Homo sapiens: one gene and its partner. The protein of the gene in region 1 interacts with the protein of each later gene in a biochemical or structural test. Each region holds a gene or a part of one and is shown on either strand. Other genes may lie near its edges.

Region 1 (16,294 bases):
GCCAGGGAGAGCCAGTGTCCCTCACACACTCCCTGTCTCTACCTCCTTGGGTCAATCTCAGCATGGGGTAAGGATCTTTTGCTCTGATGGCAAAATTCAGCGTTCCAACAGTCTGGAGCTGTACAGCTGATAACTGCAGTCTTGGATGTCTAAACACAATCTTGCTTTTGGAAACTCACTCAAAATAGGATACAGGAGACGCGGAAGCTCACCTGGCCTTTCTTTTTAGTTTCATCCTAACATACTGTGTTCGGAGGGCAAATGTCTGGAGTCTGGCACAGCAGACTAGACGTCAAAGGAAAACAGTTCCTGTGTTCCAGTTTCTCAATACTTTGGCCATTGTCTAGTCTAGCCTGATCCAAGACCCCGGGCAAGACCTTTTGACAGCTTTTGACGGGCTCTCCTCCACTGCCTAACATGTTAACCCTTTCACCCAGAAGGCACTTTTACAAAGCATATTCCCATGTGCAATTTGCAGGGACATCAGGAGTTACAGCATTTGGAGATCCAGTTCCATCCATGACTTTGGACAAGGCCCTCGAATTCTGTGCCCCAGTTTCCCTATCTATAAAACGGACGTAGAAAATGTGTTATTAGACACTGCCTGCGCTTCTCTGGAGGAAAGCACTCTGCTGTTAACCCTTAAACACCCTTAGGAGATGGGCACTTATGGAAGGAAAAAAACCTCTCCGGGTGTCAGGCTCTACACCCCAGGTGGAAGTTCTTGCTCTCTGGGGGTTATCTGAGAATCTGGTGAAAACTTAGACCCTCTTCTGAAAAACATATCCCACACCACACCAAACTTAAAGAAAGTTCTGTGGGGGTGGGGAGATGCTGTGGCGGCAGATGCCGGGTTCAGATCTCCGGCTCTGCAGGCTTTTTCGGGAACGTTAACTTGAGTCAGCCACGACCTTAATTAAGATTTGAGAAAACAGAAGCCCGCCCAGGACCCTAGGAGATGCTTCTTCACTTGGGGGGGCTACAACAGAGCCCTCGCGAGCATCCTGCAGCTTCGGACCACCGGCGGCAAACAAAGCCCGAGCACCGCTCAGCCGGGGGGCTTCCCCGACCTCGGGGGAGGGCTCTGCGGAGCATGCGCGGCGGCCGTCAGGCCCCGCCCCCCCCGGGCGCCGGAGCCGAGGCGGCGGGAACCTCAAAGCCCCGGCGCAAACGGCCGCTCCCCGCAGAGCGCCGGCCGCCCCCTCCCCGCGGCGCCCGGGCGCAGCGGCGGCCACGGACGTGTGGGGCCCGCTGGCCGCCCCCTCTTCCAGGCCGGGCGAACTTACCGAGGTCCCCTTTCCCGGGGCGGGGGGGGAGGGGCGCAGAGGGAGCTGTGGGGGCGGGGCCATGACCCCCTCGTGCGGGCTTCGGCCGCCCCTCCCCCGCCGCGGGCCCGGGCGCGCGCCCCAACCGCCAACCGCCCGCGCGGTGCCCGGGGTCGGGTAGGCCGCGGGCCGCGCGCCCCGTACCGAGCCCTTTTGTTGCGCGGAGGCGGAGGCAATGATTCAGCCCGCGGCCTGCGCCGGCCCGGCCGCCGGGAGGGAGCGTGACGCGAGGCGGCCCCCGGCTGGAACGCGCGCCGTGCCGCGTCGCTGAGCCCGCCGGCCCCGGCCCTGCGCCCACCCGTCTACCCTGACCCTCACTCACGACGCGCTCCTTGGTGTGCTCGGGTTCGGTGATGACCACGGCCGCGCCGCCCGCCTTGCCTGCTGTCGCCGGCCGCGCCGCGCGCTTGCCCCCGCCGGGGGCCCCGTCGAGCTCCAGGCCGTCCTCGTCGCCGCTGCTGCCGCCGCCGCTGCTGCTACTGCAGCGCTCGGGCCGCTCGCGCTTCCTGCCCGCCGGGCCGCCGCGTTTCCTGGGCCCGGCGCGGGCAGTGCCGTTGCCCGAGCTCGGCTCCTCCCAGGCCGCCGCCGCCGCCTTCTTCCTGGGCATGGTCGCGGCTGGAGGGAGACACGGGGCAGCGGCGCACAATGGACGGGTTATAAACTGCGCGGGGGGAGGGGAGCGGAGACGAGCCACCCGGCCTCCACTTCCTCCTCTGCCCTCCCCAAAGTGGCGGCCGCAGGGTGGGCGGAGAGGGGGCGAGTTGGGAGAGGAAATCGCGCCCCTCCCTGGCCCCGGCGCGGCTCCTTCGGGGAATCCCGCAGGGCAGCCGGGAGCCCCAGAGGCAATCCCCTGGAGGGAGAATTGAGACCCCCGGCCTATCCGTAAGTTAGGTTTGCCCACAAAGCATCACAGTTGCAACCTCGCCCCCCAAAAGTAAAGGGAAAGTAAAACCAGCCTCCAGTCCCCTAGATTTTCATTAAAGAAGGCTTCGGGACACTTCCAGGATTCCCCCTTGGCACCTGGGTGGTAAGGGAGCCCCTGCTCCCCGGCTACCCCACCTGCTGCTTTTGTCTCCGCAGTCTCCCCCCAAACCCACTCATGGCATTTAATGCAACGCTCTCCCCCACCCCGCATCAGCCCTGGACCCCCGTTCGGCCCCAGCTCAGGGGTGCCGACCTCGGGCTCTAGTTAGCCGAATCCCTACGGCGGACTGCCCCCGGCGACGGGGGAAGAGCCCGAAGAAAGCTGGACCCCAGCCCCAAACACCTGCTCGCACAGACACGAAAAATAAAAACTTTAATGGTGCCCAACTCTCTCCCAGCCCCCTTGCCGGCCGTGCGGCCCGGCCGGTCTCCGATTCGACTGCAAAGTGTCCAGGGCCGCCGCCAGCTCCCCGGCGTCCCTGCGCTCTCCCCTGTCTGCTTTTTTTTTTTTTTTTAATTGATTTTGAACAATGGGATCTCTGTCTGTCTCCGATTAAACCACGTGGATCCGCCTTCCTTCCTCTTTTTATTCCTTCAATCACCCAGCCCCCCTCCCCCAGGTTTTTTTTTAACCTTTTCTCTTTAAAAAAAGGAAAAAAAAAAAAACTTTCCCAGACCCCACAAACTGATCACTGTCGATTTTCAGACCCTACCTGGTTGGAGTGATGAGAAACCGGAGAGAAAAAAGGAAGAGAAGCAACTAAAAGACGGATCGGAGGGCTTTTTTTTTTCCGGCCCAGACGAGGGCTCCAGCCCACTCACCAGATACACTTAAAATGTAAATACGAGCTTCCAGAACAAATGCTACAACACAAAACAGAAACACATGTGCGGCCGCGCGGCAAGCGAGCGCGCGGCGGGGCGGGAGGCGCGGGGCGCGGGGCGCGCGCGCCCCCTGCCGGCCGGCGGACCCGTTGCCGGCGCCCCCGCCCCGCCCGGCCTGGCCCTGCCCTGCCCACCCGAGCCTGCGCCGCGCGCCGCGCGCCTCGCCGCCCGCCTCGGCTCCGCTGCTCCTGCGCCTTTCGCGGGCCCGCGAGCGCGCTTTGGGCCTTCCACGCAGTGCGGCCTGCGCGTCAGGGACTTCTTTGCGGCTTAGGAGGATGTTGGATTGTTTTTCCTGGGCACGTCTAGACAGGTCACATGAGGACACTCGCTGGAAAATAGTTACTTCGCTCACGCAGCAGCCAACAAGGGACGTGCCCTAATTGAGTGATTGGAATGAAAGATGAATACAATTTGAATAATTTTTTCCTGTGCAGAGAGAAGCTGAGTTTTATTTGCCTGTGGATGTGTCCTCAGTATGTAACAAGGTGCTGTGACACGGAAGAATCACATAAAGGTTTGCTGTATTAGTGAATTAATTCATAATTAATTTGAGGGCCGTGGAGGCACTGGAAGCTGGCTTTGAGGGGAACTTTTTCATTTTTTGCCAAATATTTACTGAGCCCCCGGTACATGCAAGACCCACAGTGCCCGGGGCTGCAGAGCCAGTGAACAAGGTTTCCACCCCAGTGGAACGCACAGCCTAACGGAAAGACAGATCAGTAAACAAGTAATTACAACAGTGGTAAGCTTTACAAAGTGATGCCTGTGTAGGAACATTATGGCGAGGGGATTTATCCTAGTCCAGGGCCAGGGAAGGCATTCAGGTGGAAAGTTATGCTGAACAACTTAAAGGATGAATAAGACCCGATGAAAGGGGGCAGGAAAAGTATTCCAGGCCAGGTGGAGTGAACGGGACGCTCCACATTTCGAGATCTTGAGAGACACCTCCTGGGAGGGAAGCTGTCTGGTGGGGCTGGGGTGAGAAGAGCCAAGAGGCTGGGTTCTGAGGAGGTAGGCAGGGGTGCGAGGGCCTGCATAGACCCTAGTGAACCGCAGTGAGGCTTGATCTCGTTCGCGTGTCCTGGGACGGGTGAAAAAAGCCTTGCTTGCTTCCTACCGGTCTCCACCCTCCACCTCTCCACCCCACTTCCATTACGATCTCACCGTCACTTGCTCTCCTCTCAAAGCTTTTCTCCTGCTTCTTTTTTCCTGAGGCGTACCGCACAAGGAAGTTCCTTCTTCAGGCAACTTCTTGAAAACGCATAAAGTTCTAGGATTTTTGTGATTCATTCATTCATTGTTAGTGCAAGAAACAGGACTGGGAAGCATCAAGTGTCCTGTAAAGGAAGACAGAGAAACCAAGAGGCCCAAATCTAAGGTATTTGATCAAAGTCAAAAGTCTGTGTGTCAAGAGAGCTGAGAGTGCTTATGTAAAAGAACTTTGGAAATGAGAAATCAACTGGTACGTTTCAGAGATTTTCAGAAAAGTCAAGATGGAATAGAAGCACCCTTTGAAAGCCTATTCTTAATAGACCTGCATTTAAAAAGATTTTTTAGAGGTTAAACTTTGACGCTTTGATATAAAGCATAAGTAGAACCAACCAGAAAAGAATTTCGCCTAAATATGCCATCAAGTCCCCTTCAGGAAATGGCATGCTGATGCTTGTCAGCCGAGGCGGGTGGCTGGGTGTTTATCCTCTAAACACCCTGTGTGGCCAATTAGGAACACCACTGACAGTACCTTTAGATTTCAGTCTGCAAGTCTTTTCCTTTTTTCTCCTGCCCCTTTATAATGCTTTTTGCCAGCTTAAAAGACTCATGCCTCAGACACACTGATGCAATGAGACGCTAATATCATATTGCATCATCTGATCCTAGGTGTGGTGCTCCTGAAACTGGTTTTTCTTGAGGTTATGCTGCAGTAGAAAAGCACTTTGGGTATAACACCCTGGAACTGGCCCTACTTGTCAGAAGACAAAAGTAATTTTTGCAACTCCATGCCTCAATTCCACACCACTATTCTCCCAGGGAAAGCCTGCGTGACTCTCCCGGCTGGAATTGGGTGTGCAACAGACATTCATCAGTTAGGCGTGTCATGCTGCCACTTATGTAACAAATGTTACATAGTGAGGTGCACCTACAGGCAAGCTGAAAATGACACTTCCTCCTTCAAACTGTGCTTGGAATTTCACCTCGCTTCTAATTGAGCAAATTCTCCAGGGACAGGATGGTTTGGTGCAAAACCGGGAGAGGGGAAGGGAAAGAAGGTGGCTGAGATTTCTCTGACACTTTGAGGCACAGGTGTCTGGCACTGTGCTGAGCATTTTACACCCAGAATTTTGGAAATGTGGCTGCAAGTGCCAGCCTGCCGTCACTCTTTAACCTCATCTTCAGCAAAATCATATTGCAAGTTAGATTCAGCTACGCTTAAGTTCTTTTCCAGGGGTGAGGTGTGATTTTTTCTTTCTTTTTTTTTTTTTTTTTTTTATTTTTTTAGATAGAATCTTGCTCCTCCAGCACCCAGGCTGAAGGGTGATGGTATGATCCCAGCTTACTGCAGCCTCTACCTTCCTTGCTCAAGCGATCCTCTCGCTTCAGCCTCCCAAGTAGCTGAGACCACAGGCATGGACAGCTACACTTGGCTAAATTTTTTTTCTTTTTTAATGTTTTGTAGAGACAAGGTCTCTCTCTGTTGCCCAGGCTGGTCTCGAGTGGTCCTCCCACCTCAGCCTCCCAAAGTTGCGGGATTATAGGGGTGAGCCACTGTGCACAGCCTCAGAAGTATAATTCATTTTTTTTTTTCTTTTGAGGTGGGGTCTCGCACTGTCACCCGGGCTGGAGTGCAGTGGTGGCAACCTCCACCTCCCAGGTTCAAGCAGTCTCCTGCCTCAGCCTCCCAAGTAGCTGGGATTACAGGCGCATACCACCACGCCTAGCTAATTTTGTATTTTTAGTAGAGACGGGGTTTCACCATGTTGGCCAGGCTGGTCTTGAACTTCTGACCTCGTGATTTGCCCGCCTTCGCCTCCCAAAGTGCTAGGATTACAGGCGTGAGCCACTGTGCCCAGCCTCAGAAGTGTAATTCTATTCAACTTGGCTACAGAAAGCTACACCTGTACTTGAAAGATTAATTTTCTGATCCAGTGTCTATAAAAATGAAACCAGTGATCCTGGGAGTGATGCGCTAACCAATGGAAACGATTCTTTCTCTTTTTTTTTTTTTGGAAACTGGGTCTCACTCTGTCACCTAGGCTGGACTGTAGTGGCGCCATCTTGGCTCACTACAGCCTCGACCTCCTGGGGTCAAACAGTTCTCCTGCCTCAGCCACCCTAGTAGCTGAGACTGTAGACGTGCACCTCCACGCCCAGCTAATTTTTAAAATTTTTTTGTGGAGACAAGGTCTCACTATGTTCCCCAGGCTGGTCTCAAACTCCTGACCTCAAGCAATCCTTTTGCCTTGGCCTCCCACAGTGCTAGGATTATAGGCATGTGTCACTGTGCCTGGCTTCTTTTTACTCTTTTCAATGTGACTACCACAAAATTTAATATTACATATTAAGTTTTTTGTAGCTCATATGTTATTCCTGTTGGACATCACAGCCTTCGAAAGCATAGCTGGAAAACCAGTAATTTCCTCCAGACCCCACTCTTTCTGCATCTGTTCTCTAGTTTCTCCTCTCTGTAAAATGGCAAGATAGAGTTTGGGCTAAATTTCTCTTGAGGTTACTTCTGGATTTCGTATTCCCTGATTCTGAGGACAGTAGTCAGCGGGGAATCCCTGTCATAGTGTTTGGAGAGATGTTTTCTGGGAGATGCAGATCCGGTCGTCCTATTTCTGCCAATGAGTCATGAAATTTTCAAACGCAGAGTCTTTAAATATTGTAGTTGGACCTTTAAGTTCTCTGTCTGTGAGGCATGCCTGGGCTTGGCTTGTGGCTTCTTCATCTTTGTTTTTCTAGCAAGCACCCAGAGCAGCCCGGCGTGTAGTAAGCTGTCAATATATGTTTGTTCATCTAAATAATATCCAGCGGAAGAACTGAAGCCCAGGGAGATGCTGAGGCCTCCTGAGGCCACACAGCTGGCAGATAGGATAGCCAGGAAGTGTACAGGCATCTGCATCAGTAGGAGGATTGTCAGAAACACAGAATCTGGCCAGGCGTGGTGGTACACGCCTGTAATCCCAGCACTTTGGGAGGCTGAGGCAGGACGATTGCTTGAGCCCAGGAGTTGGAGACCAGCCTGGACAACATGGTGAGACCCCATCTCTACAAAAATTAGAAAAAAATTAGCCAGCCGCGGCCAGGCGCAGTGGCTCACGCCTGTAATCCCAGCACTTTGGGAGGCCGAGGCGGGCAGATCACTTGAGGTCAGGAGTTCGAAACCAGCCTGGCCAACATGGTGAAACTCCCGTCTCTGCTAAAATATACAAAAATTAGCCGGGCGTGGTGGCAGGCAACTTAATCCCAGTTACTTGGGAGGCAGAGGCAGGAGAATCGTTTGAACCCGGGAGGCGGAGGTTGCAGTGAGCCAAGATCGAGCCATTGCACTCAAACCTGGGGGATAAGAGTGAGACTTCTCTCAAATAAAAGAAAAGAAAAGAAAAAAATTAGTCAGGTGTGGTGACGCAAACCTGTAGTCCCAGCTACTTTGGAGGCTGAGGTGGGAAAATCGCCAGAGCCTGGGAAGTCCAGGCTGCTGTGAGCCATGATCATGCCATTGCACTCCAGCTTAGGTGACAGAGTGAGACCCTGTCTCAAAAAAATAAAAATAAACACTGAATCTCAGGTTCAGCCCCCAGACCTACTGAATCAGAATGTGTTTTTTTTTTTTTTTTTTTTTTTTGAGTTGGAGTTTCCCTCTTGTTGCCCAGGCTGGAGTGCAGTAGCGCAATTTGGGCTCACTGCAACCTCCACCTCCCAGTTCAAGCGATTCTCCTGCCTCATCCTCACAAATAGCTGGGATTACAGGCACCTGCCACCACACCCAGCTAATTTTTTGTATTTTTAGTAGAGACGGGGTTTTGCCATGTTGGCCAGGCTGGTCTCGAACTCCTGACCTCAGGTGATCCACCCACCTCGACCTCCCAAAGTGCTGGAATTACAGGCGTGAGCCATCACACCCGGCCCAGAATGTGCATTTTTAACAGGTGATTTTTATGCATCTTAAAGTATGAGAGGTGCAGCCAGGCATGGTAGCTCACACCTATAATCCCAGCACTTTGGGAGGCTGAGGCGGGCAGATCACCTGAGGTCAGGAGTTCGAGACCAGCCTGACCAACATGGAGAAACCCCGTCTCTACTAAAAATTAGCCGGGCGTGGTGAGCGGAGATTGCGCCATTGCACTCCAGCCTGGGCAACAAGAGCGAAACTCCATCTCAAAAAAAAAAAAAGTATGAGAAGTGCTACTGAAATCATACCACTTTTCCATACCCTGTGGAAGCCATTCAAAAGGTGGTTTCTCATACTTTAAGATGCATCTAGCTGGGCGCAGTGGCTCACGCCTGTAATCCCAACATTTTGGGAGGCCGAGGAGGGTGGATCACGAGGTCAAGAGATCGAGACCATCCTGGCTAACACGGTGAAACCCCGTCTCTACTAAAAATACAAAAAATTAGCCAGGCATGGTGGCGGGTGCCTGTAGTCCCAGCTACTCGGGAGGCTGAGGCAGGAGAATGGCATGAACCCGGGAGGTGGAGCTTGCAGTGAGCAGAGATCGCGCCGCTGCACTCCAGCCTGGGCGACAGAGCAAGACTCCGTCTCAAAAAAAAAAAAAAAAAAAAAGATGCATCTAGTCCAGGGTGAGGAGGTCCAGGATGCAGAATACCAAGACTCACCAAGCTGGCTGATGTGGTTAGGCTTTGTGTCCCCACCCAAATGTCATGTTTTTATTTATTTATTAATTTATTTATTATTTATTTTTTTATTTTTTGAGACGGAGCCTTGCTCTGTTGCCCAGGCTGGAGTGCAGTGGCGCGATCTTGGCTCACTGCAGGCTACGTCCCCTGGGTTCACGCCATTCTCCTGCCTCAGCCTCCCGAGTACCTGGGACTACAGGCGCCCACCACTTCGCGTGGCTGATTTTTTGTATTTTTAGTAGAGACGGGGTTTCACCGTGTTAGCCAGGATGGTCTCGATCTCCTGACCTCGTGATCAGCCCACCTCAGCCTCCCAAAGTGCTGGGATTACAGGCGTGAGCCACTGCGCCCAGCTATTTATTTATTTATTTTTATTTTATTTTATTTTTTTGAGATGGAGTCTCACTCTGTTGCCCAGGCTGGAGTGCAGTGATCTTGGCTCACTGCAGCCTCTGCCTCCTGGTTCAAGCAATTCTCCTGTCTCAGCCTCCCAAGTAGCTAGGATTACAGGCACACACCAGCACACCTGGCTAATTTTTGTGTTTTTAGTAGAGATGGGGTTTCACCATGTTGGCCAGGCTGGTCTCAAATTCCTGACCTCAAGTGAGCCACCACGCCCGGCCTCCTGCTGCCTTTTGAAGAAGGTGCCTGCTTGCCCTTCTGCCATGATTGTAAGTTTCCTGAAGCCTCCCCAGCCATGCTGAACTGTGAGTCAATTAAACCTCCCTTGTTTATAAATTACCCAGTCTTGGGTAGTATTTTTATAGCAGTGTGAAATCGGACTAATACACTGGCCTAATGAAGACTTAAGGAAATTCAACAGATATTTACTGACCCTCTACACTGCCCCGGGCCTGGCAGCTGGTGCACCCACTTCTCTTCCTGAGGGTTGGAGGAGCTCACGCTTTTGCAGCCCCTGTTGCCTGCATCTGAAGGAGTAAGCAACCACTTCACAGTTTTGCCATCAGCTGGGCCTGCTCTTCCTCCTTTAGTACAGGAGAAATTTGAAATGAAAATGAGCACACCTTGGGAGTTAAATCTAATTTTTCAGGAAAAACAGGATCGAAATCACTTTCATCAATGTCTGCCTGTTAGTTTGTAACCACCGGCGCTCCCAATCTGCAGGAGTGTTTGCATTCATGTTGTGTTCCTGGCTTGAGATAGAGCCACAATTTGTAAAGCTGGTCTGTAATCAATAGCTCTCCAGTCGGCCGGGCGCGGTGGCTCACGCCTGTAATCCCAGCACTTCAGGAGGTCAAGATGGGTGGATCATGAGGTCGGGAGACTGAGACCATCCTGGCCAACATGGTGAAACCCCATCTCTACTAAAATACAAAAAATTAGCTGGGCGTGGTGGCACGTGCCTGTAGTCCCAGCTACTCAGGAGGCTGAGGCAGGGGAATCGCTTGAACTCGGGAGGCAGAGATTGCAGTGAGCCAAGAGTACCACTGCATTCCAGCCTGGGTGACAGAGCGAGACTGAGTCTCAAAAAAATAAATAAATAAAGGCTCTCCAGTCATTTTCTAAGACTATCCCTCACCTAAGCTTGCAAATAAAAGCTAACTTCTGCAGAGATTCCATCTTCCCCTGCCAGTGGGCAATATGGATGTATAGTCATGAGATTAGAAAAAGAGAGGCTGGCCAGGCACGATGGCTCACGCCTATAATCCCAGCACTTTGGTAGGCTGAGGCAGGCAGATCACCTGAGGTCAGGAGTTAGAGACCAGCCTGACCAACATGGGGAAACCCCGTCTCTACTAAAACTATAGAAATTAACCAGGCGTGGTGGCAGGCACCTGTAATCCCAGCTACTCCGGAGGCTGAGGCAAGAGTATCGCTTGAACCTGGGAGGTGGAGGTTGCAGTGAGCCAAGATCATGCCACTGCACTCCAGCCTGGGTGACAGAGTGAGACTCTGTCTCAAAAAGAAAAAGAGACAGAGGCACAAACAAAGTGCAGGTCCTACAGCTGTTCATCCAGCATCGATTGCGAAATGAAGCCTAGCGGGTGGGCGACTTTTGGGTGAGGTCAAGAACCATGAGAGTTGGAATGGACGAGAAAAACCAAGGCTTTGGGCCCAGCTGCAGAACTGTGTCATTTGCCGGGAAGGTTAATGACAAGGCCAGAAGGAGTGCCGCCTGTTTAATGTATCAGGTGGCCCTGGTGGCTGGGAATCATTGCATTTCAGGCCACGTCATGTCATGCAAAAGCATAATAACCTTTTGAAAAATGAAGAAATCGATCCCGTGGGGAGTCCCTGCAGTGCCAAATATCTGGACTGTCTGATTTTCACATTCACTAAGTGGCCTGAGTCAGCTAGATGAAGCAGAGGAGTTCTTAAATAGAACCAAGATGCTCTCTCTGGTGTGCACTGAGCTCTTACCTTGCGCCAGACATTGGGCCAGGCACTCCCCGTAAAAAGCTGGTTTCATCTTCATAACATCCATGCAACACGGATACTTTTGTGGGTCCCCGTATTAGTTTGCTAGGGCTGCCATAACAAAGTACCACAGACAGGGTGGCTTAAAATCAGAACCTTATTTTCTCACAGCTCTGGAGGCTGTAAGTCTAAGACCAAGGGGTCAGCAGGGTTGGTTTCTTCTGTGGCCTCTCTCCATAGCTTGTAAATGCCACCTTCTCTCTTGTCTTCACGTGATCTTCCCTCTGAGTGTGTCTGTGTCCTCATCTTTTCTTACAAGGATACCGGTCACATTGCATTAGGGCCAGTGTAATGACCTCTTTTTAACTTTATTACCTCTTTTGAGACCCTATTTCCAAATACAGTACAGCCACATTCTGAGATACTGGTGGTTTGCACTTCAGCATATGGACTCGGGGGGACGTATTCATCCCCTAACAGTCCATTTTATAGATCTGGAAGCCAAGACATAAGTTAAGAAACTTGTTCACGGTCTCACAGGTGGAAGTGGTGAAGTCAGAATCTGAAAACCCATTCTTTCTTTTTCTTTTCTTTTCTTTTTTTTTTTTTAGAGATGGTGTCTCACTCTGTCTGTCAGGCTGGACTGCAGCCTCAGTCTCCTGGGCTCAAGCAATTCTCCAGCCTCAACCTCCGGAGTAGGTGGGACTATATGCGTGTGCTACCGTGCCCGGCTAATTTTTTCATTTTTAGTAAGAGATGAGGGCTTGCTGTGTTGCCCAGGCTGATCTTGAACTCCTGAACTTAAGTGATCCTCCCACCTCGGCCTCCCAAAGTACTGGAATTACAAGCATGAGCCACCTTGTCTATTTTCTTTTTGTTGTTGTTAATTTGTGTGTGTGTGTGTGTGTGAGATGGGAGTCTCACTCTGTCGCTGAGGCTGGAGTGCAATGGCGTGATCTCAGCTCACCACAACCTCCGCCTCTCGGGTTCAAGCGATTCTCCTGCCTCAGCCTCCCGAGCAGCAGGGACCACAGGCATGCGCCACCACGCTAGGCTAATTTTGTATTTTTAGTAGAGATGGGGGTCTCTCCATGTTGGTCAGGCTGGTCTTGAACTCCCAACCTCAGGTGATCCGCCCACCTTGGCCTCCCAAAGTGCTTGGATTACAGGCGTAAGCCACCATGCCTGGCCCACCTCATCTATTTTCAGAGGCTGAGATTTATTGCCGCTAACTTCAGGGTTCCACCCAAGCCATTCCTACACTTATTCCACTGTCCCCACTGGCCTCTCCTTAAACACCCCCTCCTGTTAGGACTCCTGCTTGCTCCTTATCTTGCTATCTCTACAGAGGTCTTGGTTCTGAGGCTGGAAACAGAAGGGCCTCTGGAGTGAATAACACATGGTTCTGTGGGCTTTGAGTGTCACGCAGAGGCATCATCTTAAAAGACAATCTCGGCCAGGCGAGGTGGCTCATACCTGTAATCCCAGCACTTTGGGAGGCCGAGGTGGGTGGATAACCTTAGGTCAGGAATTCGAGACCAGCCTGGCCAACATGGTGAAACCCCGTCTCTACTAAAAATACAAAAATTAGCTGGGTGTGGTGGTGCATGCCTGTAATCTCAGCTACTGGGGAGGCTGAGGCAGGAGAGTCGCTTGAACCTGGGAGGTGGAGGTTGCAGTGAGCTGAGAACGCACCACTGCATTCCAGCCTGGGCGACAGAGTGAGACTCCATCTCAAAAATAATAAATAAATAAATAAATAAATAAATAAATAAATAAATAAATAAATAAAATAAGTGTTTGGATCATGAACACTTATGTGGTTCATAAAAGTGATTGAGTTTTCATGTTCATGTGTTGAATGTGCCTCCCTCAAACCTTGTTAAGTCATCAGCACATTACCCATTTGATGTGAACTTAGAAAAAAATAAAAGAGGGCCAGATAACAGTGGCTCACACCTGTAATCCCAGCACTTTGGGAGGCCAAGGTGGGTGGATCACTTAAGGTCAGGAGTTTGAGACCAGCCTGGCCAACATGATGAAACTCCGTCTCTACTAAATAAACAAAAATTAGCTGGGCATGGTGGTACATGCCTGTAATCCCAGCTACTCAGGAGGCTGAGGCAGGAGAATCACTTGAATCCAGGAGGTGGAAGTTACAGTGAGCTGAGTTGTCACCGCTGCAATCCAGCCTGGATGACAGAGTGAGACTCTGTCTCAACAAAAAAAAAAAAAAAAAGAAAATGTTTTTATTTAAAGAAAGACATTTACTCAGGTGTTGCATAGCTCTAGCAAAAATGAGGAAGATGGTTCCACAAACCACCTTGGCTTGAGGAATAGGATTTGATGCTTCTGGCTCCTCCCAACTCTGATGTTCTCCAGTCTACGATGGACCATGGCGTCTGACTGTCTAGAAAAATCCATGATGAAGGAAAGTTGGGTAGTGTACAAGAAAGCAAGCCTGCTTGAAGGCATGCATTGAATTACACAGGTTGGGTCCCAATCCACAGAAAGCCTTTTGCCTTTGAAAGTGTTACCAGGCGGAGCACTGGGGCTCACGCCTGTAATCCCAATACTTTGGGAGACCAAGGTGGGAGGATTGCTTGAGTCTGGGAGTTTGAGACCAGCCTGGGCAGCGTAGGGAGATCCTGTCTCTACATAAAATTTAAAAATTAGCTGGGCAGGCTGGGCGCGGTAGCTCACGCCTGTAATCCCAGCACTTTGGGAGGCCGAGGTGGGCGGATCACCTGAGGTCAGGAGTTTGAGACCAGCCTGGCCAACATGGTGAAACCCCGTCTCTACTAAAAATACAAAAATTAGCTGGGCATGGTGGCAGGTGCCTGTAATCCCAGCTACTCAGGAGGCTGAGGCAGGAGAATTGCTTGAACCTGGGAGGCGGAGGTTGCAGTGAGCCGAGATCACACCATTGCACTCCAGCCTGGGCTACAGAGCAAGACTCAGTCTCAAAAAAAAAAAAAAAAAAAAAAAAAAAAAAAAAAAAAAAATTAGCTGGGCATAATGGTGTGCATCTGCAGCCCCAGCTACTAAAGAGATTGAGGCAGGGGGCTCACTGGAGCCCAGAAGGTGGAATGAGTTATGCTCGCGCCACTGCACTCCAGCCTGAGCGGCAGAATGAGACCCTGTCTCAAAAAAATTTAAAAAAAGTAGAAAAAGTGTTGCCAAGTGTGCGACCTCGTCATCAGACAGTGGCAGGATTATGGGGCTCAGGAAGCAGGAAGTCAGCACCAAAGGAGGATGTACCTCGCTGGTGGGAGCCTGATCTTGGCCTATATGTAGGAAAGAGTCTTTTTTTTGAGATGGAGTCTCGCTCTGTCGCCCAAGCTGGAGTGCAGTGGCGTGATCTCGGTCCACTGCAACCTCCACCTTCCAGATTCAAGCAGTTCTTTGCCTCAGCCTCCCGAGTAGGTGGGACTACAGGTGCCCACCACCACACCTGGCTAATTTTTGTATTTTTAGTAGAGATGGGGTTTCACTATCTTGGCCAGACTGGTCTTGAACTCCTGACCTCGTGATCCACCGGCCTCGGCCTTCCAAAGTGCTGGGATTACAGGTGTGAGCCACTGCATGGGGCCAAGACAGTCATTTCTGTGTCCACTAGTTGCCCTGCAAAGTATCATTTTTAGCTGGAATCCAATCCTTCCTTTGAGGAATGAGAAAACTAAGACCCAGGGAAGCTGAGCTGTCTCCAAGTCTGAATCGAATGGAGGGGAACCATGTGTCCACGCCCTCGAGGCTGTGGCTTAGTCCCTGCCACTCTGACAACGAAACCACTCATTATTTTTCATCTTCTCGGCGGTTTAAATCACTGTTATTATGCACGCATTTTTCAAAAGAGTGCATTCCTTACCAAACCTCATTAAATTTCTCGAGACTTGAGCTGGTTCCCCTTCCTTGCTTCAGAGGGAAGGAGGGAATTTGGCTGACACAGAAGCATTTTCGTCCCATACCATCACCACCTGATGCTGTCTGTCCAAAACAGGGTGTTCGGGATGTCTGGGCAACCTGTCTGATACAGAGGGGGTTTCAAGATGACTCACAGAGCAGGGATGGGCACAGGTGACCCCACAGTCTCAAGCAGGGCCCTTCTGGGGCAGCTGAAAAGTGTGGACTAGAGCAAGAGATAGCTCTGGAACTGTTTGGGTTCAATTCCCAGCTCTAGCTGGTTGTGGGGGCTCATGCCTGTAATCCCAGCACTTTGGGAAGCCGAAGCAGGACAATCACTTCAGGTCAGGAATTTGAGACCATCCTGGTCAACATGGTGAAACCCTGTCTCTACTAAAAAATACCAAAACTAGCTGGGCATGGTGGCTTGTGCCTGTAGTCCCAGCTACTCGGGAGGCTGAAGCTGGAGAATCGCTTCAACCTAGGAGGCAGAGACTGCAGTGAGCTGAGATGGCGCCATTGCACCCCAGCCTGGGCGACAGAGACTCTGTCTCAAAAAAAAAAAAAAAAAAATCGGCCGGGCTCAGTAGCTCACGCCTGTAATCAAGCACTTTGGGAAGCTGAGGTGGGTGGATCACGAGGTCAGGAGTTCAAGACCACCTAGGCCAAGATGATGAAACCCCGTCTCTACTAAAAATACAAAAATTAACTGGGCATGGTTGCGGATGCCTGTAATCCCAGCTACTCCAGAGGCTGAGGCAGAGAATTGCTTGAACCTGGGAGGCGGAGGTTGCAGTGAACCAAGATCGCACCACTGCACTAAAGCCTGGGCGACAGAGCGAGACTCCGTCTCAGAAAAAAAAATCTTGTTTTAGACCAGAAAAAGCAGCTAAAAATAATACATGAGGAAGGTCCCGGCTCACATCAGTAAGATGCTTTCAAGTTTACAAAGCACATTCATCTTCCCTCTTGGGTCTCATGACCAGTTGGTGAGGACATGGGTCACAGATTATTATGCCCAT
Region 2 (15,614 bases), on another chromosome or scaffold:
CCCAATTTACAATCACTACCATGCCCTGATCAACTTTCCAAAGGTCACAGAAACCAAGCCACTTCGCCAAAACCTAAGACCCTTTCAAGCTGTGAAGTTCCCAAATGGAAAAGAAAAAAAAAAGATCAGAAAGTATTTTGAAAAAAATTTAGCAGAGTCACTGTTTTGGAGTGACAGGAAGAACCTTTCTAAAGCAGGCATGGTTTCTTCCTGATTCCAGGTATCAGGACTAGCCTCCTTACGTGGGGTCTGCCTGACTTCACATGCCTCTGCTCAACTTTCCCCTTGAAACCTTGCTGTAATGACTGAATGCAAACATTTCAAAGAGACAATCTGTTTATCAGTAAGGAACCTCCTCTTTAAAAATATTAACATTGTACACCTCTAAAAGGGTTAAAGAACATGAGTGAAATGACATGAATAAAGCCTGTAGTCATCCCAACCCTGAATAACAGCGGTAGTCTAGCAGGGAAATGAATTTGAACCATGTGCTTTGCTACCATGATTTAAAGAAAGTGAGCTTAACCAGGGAAGTAGAAGCTTCAAATTAAGAGAGAGATGAAGGAGGATGAAGAACAAGGAGGGCCAGCACAGACCTGGAGGGCTGCAGTGGCATGAGACCCCTGGACGCCACACAGCCTGCACAGGGAGGCTCCTGGGGCATGGGGCATGAGTCCTTACTTCTCTTTCACATGACTACCAGCTCCCAAGATCCAGAATTCCACTATCACCATAAACAATTTCAAAAACTGCTGTGAATTAAACAGATTCCTTCAGTCTAGGCTGGGAACGTACCCACCACTTACAATGCTGAATCAACACAATAGATAGAAATTACTACTAGTAGATCTGAGTTCCAAATAACTGAGTTAGACTCTGGAACACAACCCAGTCTTGAGTTGGGGACCAAATGTACACACTGCCTGCCTCCAAAACAGAAATTTCATCTGGGCTCTTGCTCATTCACTTTCAGAGAAACACACAGTTCATAACCATCCTTTGAAGGTATGATATGTTATTTGTTCTACTTGATAAAAGTAATTCAGTCCACTGCACTCAAGACACTGTCATAATGCATAAAAAGATCAAACTAGCAGTCTTAGGGAGAAAAAAGAAGACTTCCAACTTATCTTTTCCTACAGTAGCACTGTAAAGCAACAGTGGCCCACAGAAGAGAGAGCCTAAAGGACAGTTACTCTATTTCTAAAACAGACAACGTGCATCTTATTAAATATCACCCCCAAAGAACTGTGGCCAGCCCTCATTGGCTCCAGCCTCTCTCTTGCTTGCCAAGAAAAACTAGGATGACATTGTTAAGCTAAAGATACTACTAACCACAAAATTAATTCACCATCTAGCTTCCAAAGTGACTAGTTTCCTAATAAATCCCTCTGCTTAACAGAGATGACAGCGCACTTTCACGTGTGTTCCTCAGTCCCCACTCCAGCCACATTTGAGTTTTTATGTTAATAAATCAGTCAATTCTTTAAGTTCCTAAGAATGAAAGGAATTAGAATCTTTAACTAGGAAAGAATGCTTGACCATTACGAAAAGGAATTTAAGTATCTTTCCTGTGAAGTAAGCAAATAATGGTGATTAAACATTTGTCATAAGGAAGGGATGCTTGTGAATTTTGTCATGCACCCCTATGATATCAAAAGTAGAAAATACAGCCTGACGGCTTCACTCTCCTAACACTTCCTTTCCCATGTGTGTCTACTATGGTCTCTCATGAAAAATCTACAGCTTTGTTCATCCAGAATGAAGGCCTCAGCAGTTGTTGAGACATGGGGACCCACACCCAGTTCCACAATGGAGCAAGAAAGTCTCTTACACCAAACCACCATGTGACCAGACTTGCAGTCTGTCTTGGTTTCCCAAAGACAGAACAACCACATTGTGAAACAATAATCAACCTTTGCTAATCCTAAGTGGTTTTCATTATGTCTGTTACAATCTATATATTAATAGTTCAGTACTGGGCCTGTGTTGTTCCTGTCTAAACTTGGTGTTTTCAAATACAGACGGCCTACTAATGCCAATTTTTCTGGCAAGATGCAATGCAAGGGCACCTTTGCAATAATAATCGGTCTTCCAAATACAAGACAAATCTTTAAAACCACTGCTTACTAGTGCTCAGATTATAAGACTGAGGAAATTTAAAAGGATCAATAAAATACTGTCAAGGAGCTTTACATTAAAAATAGAAATCAAGTTTACCAAAGGTTTATCCAAGAGATATCATGTATTTTCAAGTTTCCTAAAAATGCATCTAAAAATCCTCCTAAAAACCTGGACCAAACTTCACAGTTTAATACATGCACAACCTGAATATGTGGGAAAAAGCAACAACAACAACAACATAGGTACATGCTACCAACTGTGGTGATTAACTGAAGAAAACTCCGTGAATAGGCTTGGTTTGCAGATCTGGCAAAAGAGCATGACGAAAGGCTAAGCAAATGGAACTGCTGCACTGGGTCAAAGACTACAAAGGGAAAGCCATGTCAGGTTCACATTGTTAAATAAAAAATCCACACTATACTATAAATTCACACAACTAACTATAAAAATTAATTCATACCACACAAAGGAAGGGGCAGTTAAGTTCCTGATCTTGGGTAAATCTGTCAAGCTCCTGCCACCAAAGTCTCCTCATCTGTAAAATGAGGAATAGACCAGCCCACAGTGCTTCCTGTTCTGGCTGTGATTCAGAGTCACCAGGGAACTCACACCCAGGCAGCTGGATTCATATAGGTCCACAGATGATCATCACAAGGCAGTCAAGAATGAGGACCTCTGTACCTGAGCAATAATCTCCCAAATCTCCCAAAATAATATATCCTTTAAAAGATGGTGAGATACTGGTGCCAAATATAATCCATTATTCATAAATTTTTAAGAAGAAATGTAGATCATTGCCTGACCAAAGGGGAAAAAATATAACTGCCTTCCACATACAATGTATAGGCCTTCCTACTCCCATTTATAGTCTCTCTCACTCTGACCTTTGCATTATATTAATTACTCATTACTGCAGCAAACGGGAGGAACTGTATTTTTGTTATTAATGTAAGATCCAAATGACAGGCCTAATTTAACATACCATAAAACTATAGAGGCTCTTTTCCCACACAGGATGTTACACTTTATCACACTGTAACCAGAAGAGTTATCTCAAGCACTGCAGTGCAATCTCCTTCAAATCCTAAAAAAATCCATCTTTTGCCAGGAACTTTCCTTAAAATGGACAGACAGACACACAGACAGAGAGACTGAATACACAGACCTGAATAGAGAAGACTGTCTGAATAGACATTTCCAATTCAGACAGATGCAAAAACACTGGAGGTGTTTTTAAGACCGCCTTCCCATCCTAAAATTAGACATTTTTTGCCCTCTTCAGTGACTCAACTTTGATTCAAAGTCTAAAATCCTCAGGTGGGAGTAGGAATCCATACCCTTAATAGCTTAATGTCAGATGTAAAATGTATTAAACTTACTCTATTTGCTTCTCTGCAGTTCCATTCATTAACAGACATTTAAGAGAGAAGAGAGGGAACAGGAATGTATTCAGTACCTACTCTGTATTAGGCACTTCATATAATTTTCCTTGCTTAATCTTGCCAATGACCCTGCAAGGTAAGCCTTTTGCATCTCCACACTACAGAGGAGGAAAGTGAAGCTCAGGGAGGTGAGGGAGCTGGCAAAGTCACAGCTAGCAAGAAGCGGAGCCAAGAGTGAAGCCCAGCTCTATCTGGCCCTAAAGGCCTGCACCCTCACGGCCTCAGTTCCCCTAAATACAAAACTCTCTTAGAACGAGAACTACAGAAGGTACCCATAGCTCACTGTCCCTAACTAGACAAAAAAGTTGACATTTTTCTTTCTCTTCTGTACTACCTTGCCACAATCCAAGCTTTAACGAACACACAAAGAAAAGGTATCCCGAAATGGCCAACTGGTTTCTCCTAATTCTCAGAAAGGTGCTAAGTGAATTTATTTATTTATTTATTTATTTTTTTGAGACGGATTCTTTCTCTGCCGCCCAGGCTGGAGTGCAACTCTGTCGCCCAGGCTGGAGTGTGATGGCGCAGTCTAGGCTCCCTGCAGCCTCTGCCTCCCAGGTTTCAAGCAATTCCCCTGCTTCAGCCTCCTGAGTAGCTGGGACTACAGGCGCGTGCCACCACACCCGGCTAATTTTTGTATTTTTAGCAGAGACAGGTTGGCCGTGTTGGCCAGGCTGGTCTCAAACCCCTGACCTCGTGATCTGCCCGCCTCAGCTTCCCAAAGTGCTGGGATTACAGGTGTGAGCCACCACGCCCGGCATGAAATATTTTTAATTAAAGTATTTTAAAAATAAACATAATCTGGGAGGCCGAGGCGGGCGGATTATGAGGTCAGGAGATCGAGATCATCCTGGCTAACACAGTGAAATCCCATCTCTACTAAAAAATACCAAAAAATTAGCCGGGTGTAGTGGCGGGCGCCTGTAGTCCCAGCTACTTGGGAGGCTGAGGCGGGAGAACGGCGTGAACCTGGGAGGCAGAGCTTGCAGTGAGCTGAGATCGTGCCACTGCACTCCAGCACTCTAGCCTGGGCGACAGAGTGAGACTCTGTCTCAAAAAAAAAAAAAATGAACATAAGAACACAAAATATAACTAAAGAATACTAATTTGAGTCAGACACCCCAAGAGAGGAGAGCATGAACAAAAGAATGAAGAGGCTGGGCATGGTGCATCACGCCTATAATCCTAGCACTTTCGGAGGCTAAGGTAGGAGACTTGCTTGAGCCCAGGAGTTCAAGACCAGCCTATACAACATAGTGAGACCCCATCTCTACAAAACATTAAAAAAAAAAAAAAAGAATGAAAAGAAAGTACACACCCTTAAAATCCAATTTACAACCATTCTCATGAGTGTGACAGGGGTAGTTCCAGTACTAACTGACCAAATACTATCAGGGTCGGCCTGTATGCATTTGGTGTGACTAAATCGTGTTCGCTGGCCATCTACCCTACTGAGGAGACTGTGCGCCAGTCATTACTGTTCATCGGGGGAAAGAACCTGGACGAGAATGTTCTGCCATTGGGGAAATGTTTTAAACACTCAGTTTTACATTTGAGCACTTTTTGGTAAGAGCTGGACTTGGATGCCAGAAGGGCAAAAGGGAGTTACCCCATTCATGTTATTTTAACATAGGCAATAAAGACATTCATGATAATCAGAGAAACCCACTGACCTCAGGATCTTTCCAGTTAACTTCAATAAACAATCATTCATTCAGCGAATATCCAGTAGGCACTAATGACCAAGCCATGAACAAGAGAATCTCAGTCTGCCTTCCATGTGAATTGCTCTATTGCATTCTGCCTTGTATGGAAAGGCACCTTTCAGACTATTAGCTCAAATTCAGGTCCAGTTCTTTGTAGCAAACAGTCCTGATGAATGTACAATACATGAGGGCAGGGACAAATGTCTGCCTGTGAGATGAGGAAGTTTTCATGGAGGAAAAACCTCATGACCCATGTCCCAAAGGACAAGTGGGATTCTAGAAGTAGAAAGGCGATGAAGTAATAAATTCATCACAAGATTTGAAAGCTGGGATGTTTCAGGGAGTGGCACTAGAGATGAAGACATTGGAAGGGGAATAGTGAGAAATAAAGCAGGCTGAAATCAGAGCCCACCTTACTCCACACCTCATTAAGGAGTCTGAACTTTATTTTGTGGGTAAAGGTGAGGTCACCAGAGGATTTGAACAGGTGAATGGCATGTTCCCTGATGAATCCTTTTTCATCTATAGCATACCTTAAAATATATTAATTCAAACCTTTCCCCAGTCCTCTCACATTTGGGTTTCAACTTATATAACCAAAATATTGAGGAGGGTGTGGTTTAAGGTCTAATTTCTAACTAGTAAGACCCCACTATTCATAAATTGGAAATCATCAAAATTTAAAATCTTTGTTCCTAAAAAGGGGCACCATCAAGAAAATGAAAGGACATGTCAGAATCCAAGAAAATTTTTGCAAATCATACAGCTGATAAGGCACTTGAATCTAGAATACATGAACAACTTTTATAACACCAATAAAAAGACAACCCATTAAAAAACGGGCAGAGCATTTGAATGGACATTTCTCCAAAGATTACACATACAAATGTTCACCAACCACATGAAAAGATGCTCAACATCATTAGCCATTAGGGAAACACAGATGACTAGAATCAAAAAGTCAGAGAGTAACAAGTGTTGGCAAGAATGTGGAGAATTTAGAACCTTCATATACTCTTGGTGAATACCGTAAAATGGTGCAGCTGCTTTGGAGAAGTCTGGCCATTCCTCCAATAGTTAAATATAGAGTTACCATACAACCCATCGATTACATTCCTAGGTAAATACTCAGGAGAAATGAAAACGTATGTTCACAGCATTATTCATAATAGCCAAAAAGGAAAAACACCCAAATGTTCATCAACTGATGAATGGATAAACAAAATACGGCATATCCAAACAATGGAATATTATTTGACCATTAAAAAAAAAAAATGAAGTACTATACAATACTACCACACATATAAACCTTGAAAATATGCTAAATAAGGGCAAGACACAAAAGACCACATAGTGTATGATTCCATTTACATGAAACGGGAGGACTTCTAAGGGGTATGGGGTTTCTTTTTGGGGGGGATGAAAATGTTCTAAAATTGACTGTGGTGACAGCTGCACAACTCTGTGAATATACCAAAAACCACAGAACTGTACACTTTAAACGGGTGAACTGTACAGTATGTCTCAATGAAGCTGTTATAAAACAAAAAAAGTTCCATTCTGCACTCTAGAAATACAAAGTACTCAGAAAGGAGTACAGAATCTTGTTCACTCACTTTAAAGGATCTGAACTAGGGCAAAGAAAACCCAGAGAGATTCTATTACTTAACATTCTAGGTACTAGGTCATACTGAAATATTCATGAAGAATTCTGTTTTAATACAGAAAAGGTATCTTAAGTTTAAAAAGACATACAAGTGTCAGAAAAGAGTTTTCATAATTCAAGGAGACAGTAACACAGAGAAGTCATAAATGGAAAACAAGCTTAAGAGGTTTTATCACATGGATTTGTACCTTGAAAATGCAAGTAGCTCTCAAATTTATTATTGCCCCACCCCTGGAAAAGAGGTCAAAGGTAAAACAGACCAATTAATAATATGTTTCTAAAGTACCAGTTTGTGACAAATCAAAATATGAGAAATTAAAATTTTGCCATCATAAAGAAGAGACTCGTCGACATACCCACTTATATAACTAAGAATTGATATTCATCCTTTTGAACATTCCATCTCATAGTCGTTAGAGTGACTCTCTTCCTCATGGTTGGAGTGGATCCCAGAAGTGACAGATAAGTTAAACATAAAACTTTTATCAAAAAATCCAACGGTGTTTAAAAAAATGCTATTCACTGACACCGAATCTAATCCTAAACTATATATAAATAAGTATAAATGCTGATTAGCACAATCTGCAGGCAAAGTAACAAAGGATCATGAAAAAGTCAATATTGTGTGCAGTTATGTTTCATCGGTATGTATCTATTAAAATTCATCAGGCTTTAATGTACCTTCCACAAGTAATCAAAATAAATATGGACAAGATAGGTTCTATATTTGTCAAAAATGTGTGCTCCTGACGTTTATACCAAATCTTTGTCCAATCCTCAGTACACACGACTAACCTCCACCACGAAACACTGCACTTCAAGACCTAAGGTACAACACAATTCTCAGTTTTATTTCACTTTTTTCCCTACTTATTTATGCGATTTCTCAGATCCAATGTTTACTATTATGCTTCATAGCCAAACATTATGACTGTGAAACATACCTCCAAACCAAAAATACTAGTTTCCTTAAATCATCTGAAATGTATAGAACCAAGTCCAAAATAGATTTTGCACATTTCTTCAGTTTTACAGGGAATGCAGAAAGTGAATTAATATTAAACAGGTATCTATTTGCCTTCACAACTGAACAGACGGTACAAAGCAACTGCTTATACTTAATCATGTTTCTGTCTATTCCAGCAGGCCCTGGTGTCAGGAGAACGTTCTGCCAGATAAGGACAATGAGATGCATTATTATATAGAGTGACTAAGAGCCCTACAAGTACTGTTTTAGAATGTAATCCCAGGCAGAAAGGCTGCGGTAAGAGGGCCTAATATTTTGTGGTAACTATTTCCAAAAGTAAATATATTCGCCACCCAGGACCAGTTTATTAAACGCGCACTACATTCAATTCTTTTCAAATGTCTTATAGGAGGGAAAAGCCTTTGTATCTTACCATGCCGGGGGAAATGAACAACTTGCAATTTGCTTCGCACTCTGAATCCCACGTTTGCAACATGTAGAGCAAGCACTTTAGACACCACAAAACAAGGGCAGCCTACATTACGGCCAAATATAGGATGTGTTTCTAAATCGTGATGCAGTAAAGCCTACGATTCCTTTTCCAGCGTTCAAAATCCTTTGAACACTCCCAAAAAAGGATGCCAGGGCCAGCGCCTCCCTCCAAGAGGAAGCCCCTTTCTTCTCAGCTCTCACCGCAGCCTGCCACTTCCCCCAACACATTCAAATCATTTGAGAGACGGAGAGCTGGGGAGCGTGCGCCGGTGGGGACAGGCGGGAGAGCTCGGTTTCTGCATTCCCACCCTCCACGTCTGACCTCATCCTCAGTCATTTCGGCGCAGCGGGGCCCCACCTGCACCTCGCTCCTTTTTACTGCGTCCCTCGCCAGCTGCCCCGCTATTAGGGAAACACACCTCTGAATCACCCAGTTCACTCGGACACCCTGGGCCCCCGATCCGACAGCCTTCCTGCTTCGTTCCTCCCCTCCCAACCCCCAGCCAGTCCCAGCCCTCTGCTCCCTTGGCCGGGCTCAGCCTCTTCCCAAGCCGCCCCCACCCACATTACTCCAGCTCCAGCTCTGCCCCGCCCCGCCTGACCCCCAACCGAGATCTGCAGGGCCCAGAGCTGGTCTCGCACCCAAAGCCAGGAAACCCGCAGGCCAGGCGGCCGCCCTCGCCCCTCCCGACGCAGGGCCCAGCTCGCCCCGGCCCCACGTGAGCCCGGCCCCTACCCGCCCCCACCCACTCGTTCCCTGGGGCGGCCCAAACCCAGTCCCCAGGCCTGGAGCCCCCGGGCTCTACGCCTCGCCCGAAGCAGCCCTTCCCTCCCAGCACCTCGCCCAAGCAGGCGATCCCTGACCCCTAAAAGCCTTCCCTGGGCAGCCTCGTCCCACCTCGGCCCGCGGCTCCGCACCCGGCCAGGAGCGTTCCGGACCTCGAAAGCCTCCTCCCCACAGGGACCCTGCTTCACGCTCCCCACGCCACCTGGTTCGGTCCCCAACTCCCTTTCCCCGAGCCCCCGACAGCAGCCCCCGGCCCTAACCCCTTGCAACCCAGCCCGTGAACCCGCGCCCCGCGCGCCCACCCAGCACTGTCCCCTCCACCTAGCCCTGCCCCTCGCCCCGCCGGCTCCTGTCAGGCGGCGCAGGCACATGCTCAGAGGACAGGTCCGCCCGCCCGACTCGCTCTCAGGCTGCCCCCGCCGGGCGCGAGCCGCTCACCCGGGCCGAGGTGCCTGAGGCGCCGCCGCCGAAGTCCCCGCTGCAAAGCCGGGCGAAGCCTCCAACCGCTGCCGCCTCCAGCCTGGCACTGAGCGCCGTGCGGGGGAGGGGCGCGGGCAGCCGCCACCGCCCCCGCCACCGCGCGTAGGCCCCGCCCCCGCGCCGCGCGGGACCCAACCAGGGCTGCCGGGCCGCTGTGCGCCACGCCCACTTCCGGAGGGGAAGCCCGCTTCCCACCCCACGTTCCACGCCTCGCTACGCCCCCTCTGGTCGCACCGAGGGATGCAGGCGGTGCCCAAGCGCACGCCCCGCTCTCCAGTCATCTGAGTGGTAGAGGGCCACGCCCACAGGCGCCTCCGAGCAACGCCCACTGCTCCTTAGACCCCGGAGCGGGGTTCTTAGAGCCCCGCCCACTGACCCGCTAGGCTCTGCAAGGCCACGTCCCCTGGCTCCTCAAAGATTCCCCCAGAGCCCCTCAATACAGGAACATTAGCTCCTCTGAGCCCCGCGCACTGCCTATCCGAGTCCTTAAACCAGCCTCCTGCTTCCCTAAGCCCGGCTCCCCTCCCACTGCTTCAGAACTCGCCCAGCGGCCTCACAAAGCCCCGCCCCGTCTTCCAGAAGCCCCGCCCAAGGACCGCAACCCTATTCCTAGCATCTCAAGCCCCGCCCACTACCCCATCTCAACGTTTAAACCCCAAGCCCCGCCCCGAATTCGCGAATCCACGCCTCTGGCTCCCGAGGCTCCGCCCTGGCTCCGTCACACCCTACCACCACCTCCCTTGAGGACTGCCGACGTTCCAGCCCTCCCTGAACCGTCCATTGTCACATTCCTAGTGCAGAGTGGCCGCCCCTGGGCTGGGCCACACCCACGTAACCCCAAAGAGGGCCCGTGATTGACCCCATTTCGCAGGTGAGGGAATGGAAACTTCAGGGTTCCTCCCTTCCTTTCCCTGGCCAGAGTCCCTTAATAACTCGGCGGCCCAGGCCTGAAAGTCGGAGCACGGGAATTTGAGCCTCAGCTCTGCGGCCGTCAGACTGTGTGACCTGGGACAGTTCTCTTACCTCTTTGGGCCTGAGTCCCCTAATCTTCAGCATGAAGAAGTTGTCCTGTTAATAGCTAAAGTCCCTTTCTGAAACACCAAGCTCTGAAATACCGAGATTTGAGGAAACAGAGCCTGGGGAACCGAACCGACTGTGGGGTAGGGCTATTTACTTCCCAAAGCAAGGCATCTTTGCCATTCACAGGGGGATTTTTTATTTTAAGCGTCAGCCTCAGAAACGTGTGTTATTTAAATCAAGCTTGACCTGAACTAAGACAGCTATCACAGCAAATTATTTATCCTCTCTAAGGGTCAGTTTCTTTATCTGTAAAATGGGGATAACAGCCCCTCCCTCACAGGGTTCCATGAGATCATATTAGCAGCCATGATCGTGGCATTACTTTTTGCCATTAAAAGGAATGGCAAAAACCGCGATTACTTTTGCACCAGGATAATAGTAATATACTTAGAAGAGTTCCTGGCTTGTGATAAACGCTCGACAGTACCTGTTGCTGCTACTGCTGGGACTCAACAAAATGAAAGGATGGGTTTTATTTTGCCTTCAAGCAGCCACTCCTAATAGGAGGAATTCAGCACCCTTCCTGCAGTAAGATTTGCCACTCACTTTATTTAAATGAGATAAACGTGATGAAACGCCTACTGCAGTGCCTGCCATATGGTGAGGCTCAAAAACAATTCACTTGTTTTTGTTTGTTTGAGACACAGTCTTGCTCTGTCGCTCAGGCTGGAGTGCAGTGGGGCAGTCCACGGCTCACTGCAGCATGGACCTCCCGGGCTCAAGTAATCCTCCCACCTCAGCCTCCCACGTAGCTGAGACTACAGGCACGCGCCACCATGCCCAGCTAAATTCTTAACATTTTTCTGTAGAGATGAAGTCCTGCTATGTTGCCCAGGCTGGCCTCAAACTCCTGAGCTCAAGAGATCCTCCCACCTCGGCCTCCCAAAGTGTTGGGATTACAGGTATGAGCCACTGTGCCCACAATTCAATAGTTTTGAACAATAAAAGTTGTTTTTTTAAAATCCACTAGTTAATAAATTAAACAGGGGCATTGATAGCAGTGAGTTCTGAGTGCTTTGGGGAAAATGAAGATTGGTAAAGTGCTTTGAGTTCCTTTTTTTTTGAGACGGAGTCTTGCTCTGTCGCCCAGGCTGGAGTACAGTGGCGCGATCTCAGCTCACTGCAAGCTCCGCCTCCCAGGTTCACGCCATTCTCCTGCCTCAGCCTCCCGAGTAGCTGGGACTACAGGCACCCGCCACCACGCCCGGCTTATTTTTTGTATTTTTAGTAGAGACGGGGTTTCACCATGTTAGCCAGGATGGTCTCGATCTCCTGACCTTGTAATCCACCCGCCTCGGCCTCCCAAAGTGCTGGGATTACAGGCGTGAGCCACCGCGTCCGGCCGAGTTCCAACTGGAAACCACGGAGTAAGCTAGCTTATTCTTTGGAAACAGATTATTGCTAACATTTATCCATCACTTAGACATGCTAGGCACTATCTGAGTGCTTTACATGCAGAATCTTCTGAAATTGCTCAACAATCCTATGGCCACAGAAATAATTCTTTTTTTTTTTTCTTTTTGAGACGGGGTCTCACTCTTTTGCCCAGGCTGGAGAGCAGTGGCTCCATCTGGCTCACTGCAGCCTCGAACTACCAGGCTCAAGCAATCCTTCCACCTCAGCCTTCCAAGCAGCTAAAACTGCAGGTGCACACCACTTTGCTCACTAATATTTTTACTTTTTGTACAGATGGGGTCTTGTTTTGTTGCCCAGGCTAGTCTCAAATTCCTGGCCTCCCAAAGGTGTTGAAATTACAAGCATGAGCCACCACACCCAGCCCAGAAGGGACTCCTAATCCCCACCTATAAAGGTGAGGAAACTGAAGACTCAGAGAAGTTAAATTCCTTGTCCAAGTCACATGGCTTGAACCACGTAGAACCCACATCCATCTAAATGCAGAGCCTGCACCCTTAGCCAGTTAGTCATTACACTAAACTGCCTCTGTGGCAGCATGACAGAACAGAAAAACCGTGGACTTTGGATTCTGGCCGGTTTAGGTTTAAATTCAGGCTCCACCTATTACTCATTGTGTGACGTTCAGCAAGTCACTTCCCCTCTGAGCTGAGCCCTATTCTTCTGCCTATATATCACTGGGAATCATGTAAATGCTTCAGGAAGTGGTTTTGAATATTCAGGAGTTTAGATTCAATGAATTAGGACGTGGCAAAGCACCCAACACAGTGCCCAGCACAAAATAGTTGTTTTAAAACATGTTGATGTTTAAAAATCACAGGGTTCCGGCCAGGAGTGGTGGCTCACACCTGTAATCCCAGCACTTGGGAGGCTGAGGCAGGCGGATTGTTTGAGGTCAGGAGTTCGAGACCAGCCTGGGCAATATGATGAAACCCCGTCTCTACTAAAAATACAAAAATTAGCCAGGCATGGTGGCACGCGTCTGTAATCCCAGCTACTTGGGAGGCTGAGGCAGAAGAATTGCTTGAACTCGAGTTTGGAGGTGGAGGTTGCAGTAAGCCTAGATAGCGCCACTGCACTCCAGCCTGGGCGAGAGTGAGACTCTGAAAAAAAAAATAGAAATAAATAAAAATAAAAAAATCTTGGGGTTCCATGAGATCATAGATAAATGATGAAGTTAGAAGTGATGAAATGATAATGATGAAATTAGAAGAATTCCCCCCGCCAGATGATACCGCCAAAAAGCAGCCATGGAATATGCTACGAAAGATCCCAAGGCCTTCATCTTCTGACTGCCTCTTTCAGTTCCTGGTTTGAGCCCTGCATTTGAGGAGGTGATTCTTGCACAGGAAGCACCCAATGCCAGAAGCAATGCCACCTCACTTTCACTCCATGCCTATCCCAAATGTGGTCAGCTGAGAGCTGCTTACTTCCAGAAACAGGAAAACTGCATAACTCTGCTGGGAGAAAGCCCCATCATCTCATTGTTCTTGAACCTACAGCAATTGCTTTGTGGGCCTGAAAGAAACCTTGGCTCTGTCCAAGCTGGCCCTAAAGGGAGGGATCCAAGTCCAGGTGAGATGCTGGATTTAAGAGTTTTTTCCTGCTCTCAAAAGCTGGTGATTTCTAAAGTGGCTTAAGACAGGTGCTAGATGGAGAGGAATTTAATGATCAGGAAAAATAAAAATGATTCCAGACCACACATGATATAGATGCCAGCTTATGTATGAAGTGGAAAGAACTGTGGGCCCAGCATCCAGAGGCTCCTTAGCAAATCATTTTTCTATTTTTTCTGAGTACCAAATGGGGACATTTGTTTTAGGTTGCTAGGGCAACCTAGAAGCTCAGTGAATTACCCTGTGGAAGCATTAACAAATAATAATATTATTAAATAAATGAGACTGGAAGTCCCTAGAGTAATCTCAGTAGACAAGACCCCTAATTGAGCGATAGAAGACAACAAAATTTGAAGAGCACTAAAATTCACTCTACATTGATAAATCTTCATTCTCACCACTTTGGGTACTTCTTTCTGCAAAATAGAGACTGGAAAAATACTGAATGATTGACAGGCTACAGACAAATGCCTTTTTTAAAATTAAAATTGTAATTTTGAGATAATTACAGATTCACATACAAGTGTAAGAAATAATACAAAGAGGCCAGGAGTGGTGGCATGCGCCTGTAATGCCAGCTACTTGGGAGGCTGAGGCACAAGAATTGTCTGAACCCAGGAGGTGGAGGTTGCAGTGAGCCAAGATCACGCCACTGCATTCCAGCCTGAGTGACAGAGCGAGACTCTGTCTCATTAAAAAGAGAGAGGGAGGGAGAGAGAGAGAGAGAGAGAGAGATCATGTGTGGGCCAGGTACAGTGGCTCATGCCTGTAATCCTAGCACTTTGGAGGCCAAGGCAAGTGGCTCACTTGAGCTCAGAAGTTTGAGACCACTCTGGGCAACTTAGTGAAACCCCATCTCTACAAAAAATTTAGCGAAAAATAACAACAAAAAAAAGAGAGATCACATGTACCCTTTATGCAGTTTCCTCCAGTGGTAACATCTTGCAAAACTGTAGTACATTATAACCTGGATATTGACATGGATACAGTCAATGTCAATATAGATGTTGAAAATATTTCCATCACCACAAGGATACTTCATGTTCCCTTTGATAGCCACACCCACTTCCACCTTCCGTTCATCCATCCCCTCCTTAAGCCCTGGCAACCACTCATCTGTTCTACATTTCTAAAATTTTGTCATTTCAAGAATGTCATGTAAATGGAATCATATAGTATGTAACCTTTTAGAATTGACTGTTTTCACCCTGCATAAATCTCTGGAGATGCATCCAGGTTGTTGCATGTGTGAGTAGTTTGTTCCTTATTATTGCTGAGTAGTGTTCCATGGTACACATGCACCACGGTTTAAATATTCACCCATTGAAAGACATATTGTTTGACCTATTCACCCATTGAAGGACACAGGTTGGAGCTATTATGAATAAAGCTGGTATAAACGTTATAAACATTCATGTACAGCTTTTTGTGTGAACGTACGTCTTCATTTCTCTGTGAAAAGTTCCCAGGAGTCCAATTGCTGTGTTATATGGTAGTCGTATGTTCAGTATTTTAAGAAACTGTCAAACTGTTTCCCAGAATGGTTGACCCATTTTACATCCCCACCTACCAGCAATCTATGAGTGCCAGTTTCTTTGCATCTTTGTCAGCATTTGATGTTGTCACTATATTTTATTTTAGCCATTCTGATAGGTATAGAGTAATACCTCATTGTGGTTTTAATTTGCATTTTCCTGTTGGTTAATAATGTTCAAAATCTTTTCATGTTCTTATTTGCTATTTATTTATTTTAAAAAAAATTTTTTTTTTTTTTTCTGAGACAGAGTCTCGCTCTGTCACCGAGGCTGGAGTGCAGTGACGTAATCTCAGCTCACTGCAAT

What was found.
Region 2: the proteins of RCC2 (region 1) and CORO1C form a complex in vitro, tested with the Homo sapiens proteins (one study listed by BioGRID).

What each region holds. Positions count from the first base shown.
Region 1 is NC_000001.11:17,436,583-17,452,876, forward strand, and holds the start of RCC2 (protein RCC2), read right to left. Parts: upstream 3,096-16,294; 5' UTR 2,963-3,095; intron 1,955-2,962; exon of another isoform or gene 1,941-1,954; 5' UTR 1,933-1,940; coding exon 1,648-1,932; intron 1-1,647. UniProt on the Homo sapiens protein: Multifunctional protein that may affect its functions by regulating the activity of small GTPases, such as RAC1 and RALA. Required for normal progress through the cell cycle, both during interphase and during mitosis.
Region 2 is NC_000012.12:108,721,807-108,737,420, forward strand, and holds the start of CORO1C (coronin-1C), read right to left. Parts: upstream 9,713-15,614; 5' UTR 9,623-9,712; intron 9,038-9,622; exon of another isoform or gene 8,817-9,037; intron 1-8,816. UniProt on the Homo sapiens protein: Plays a role in directed cell migration by regulating the activation and subcellular location of RAC1. Increases the presence of activated RAC1 at the leading edge of migrating cells.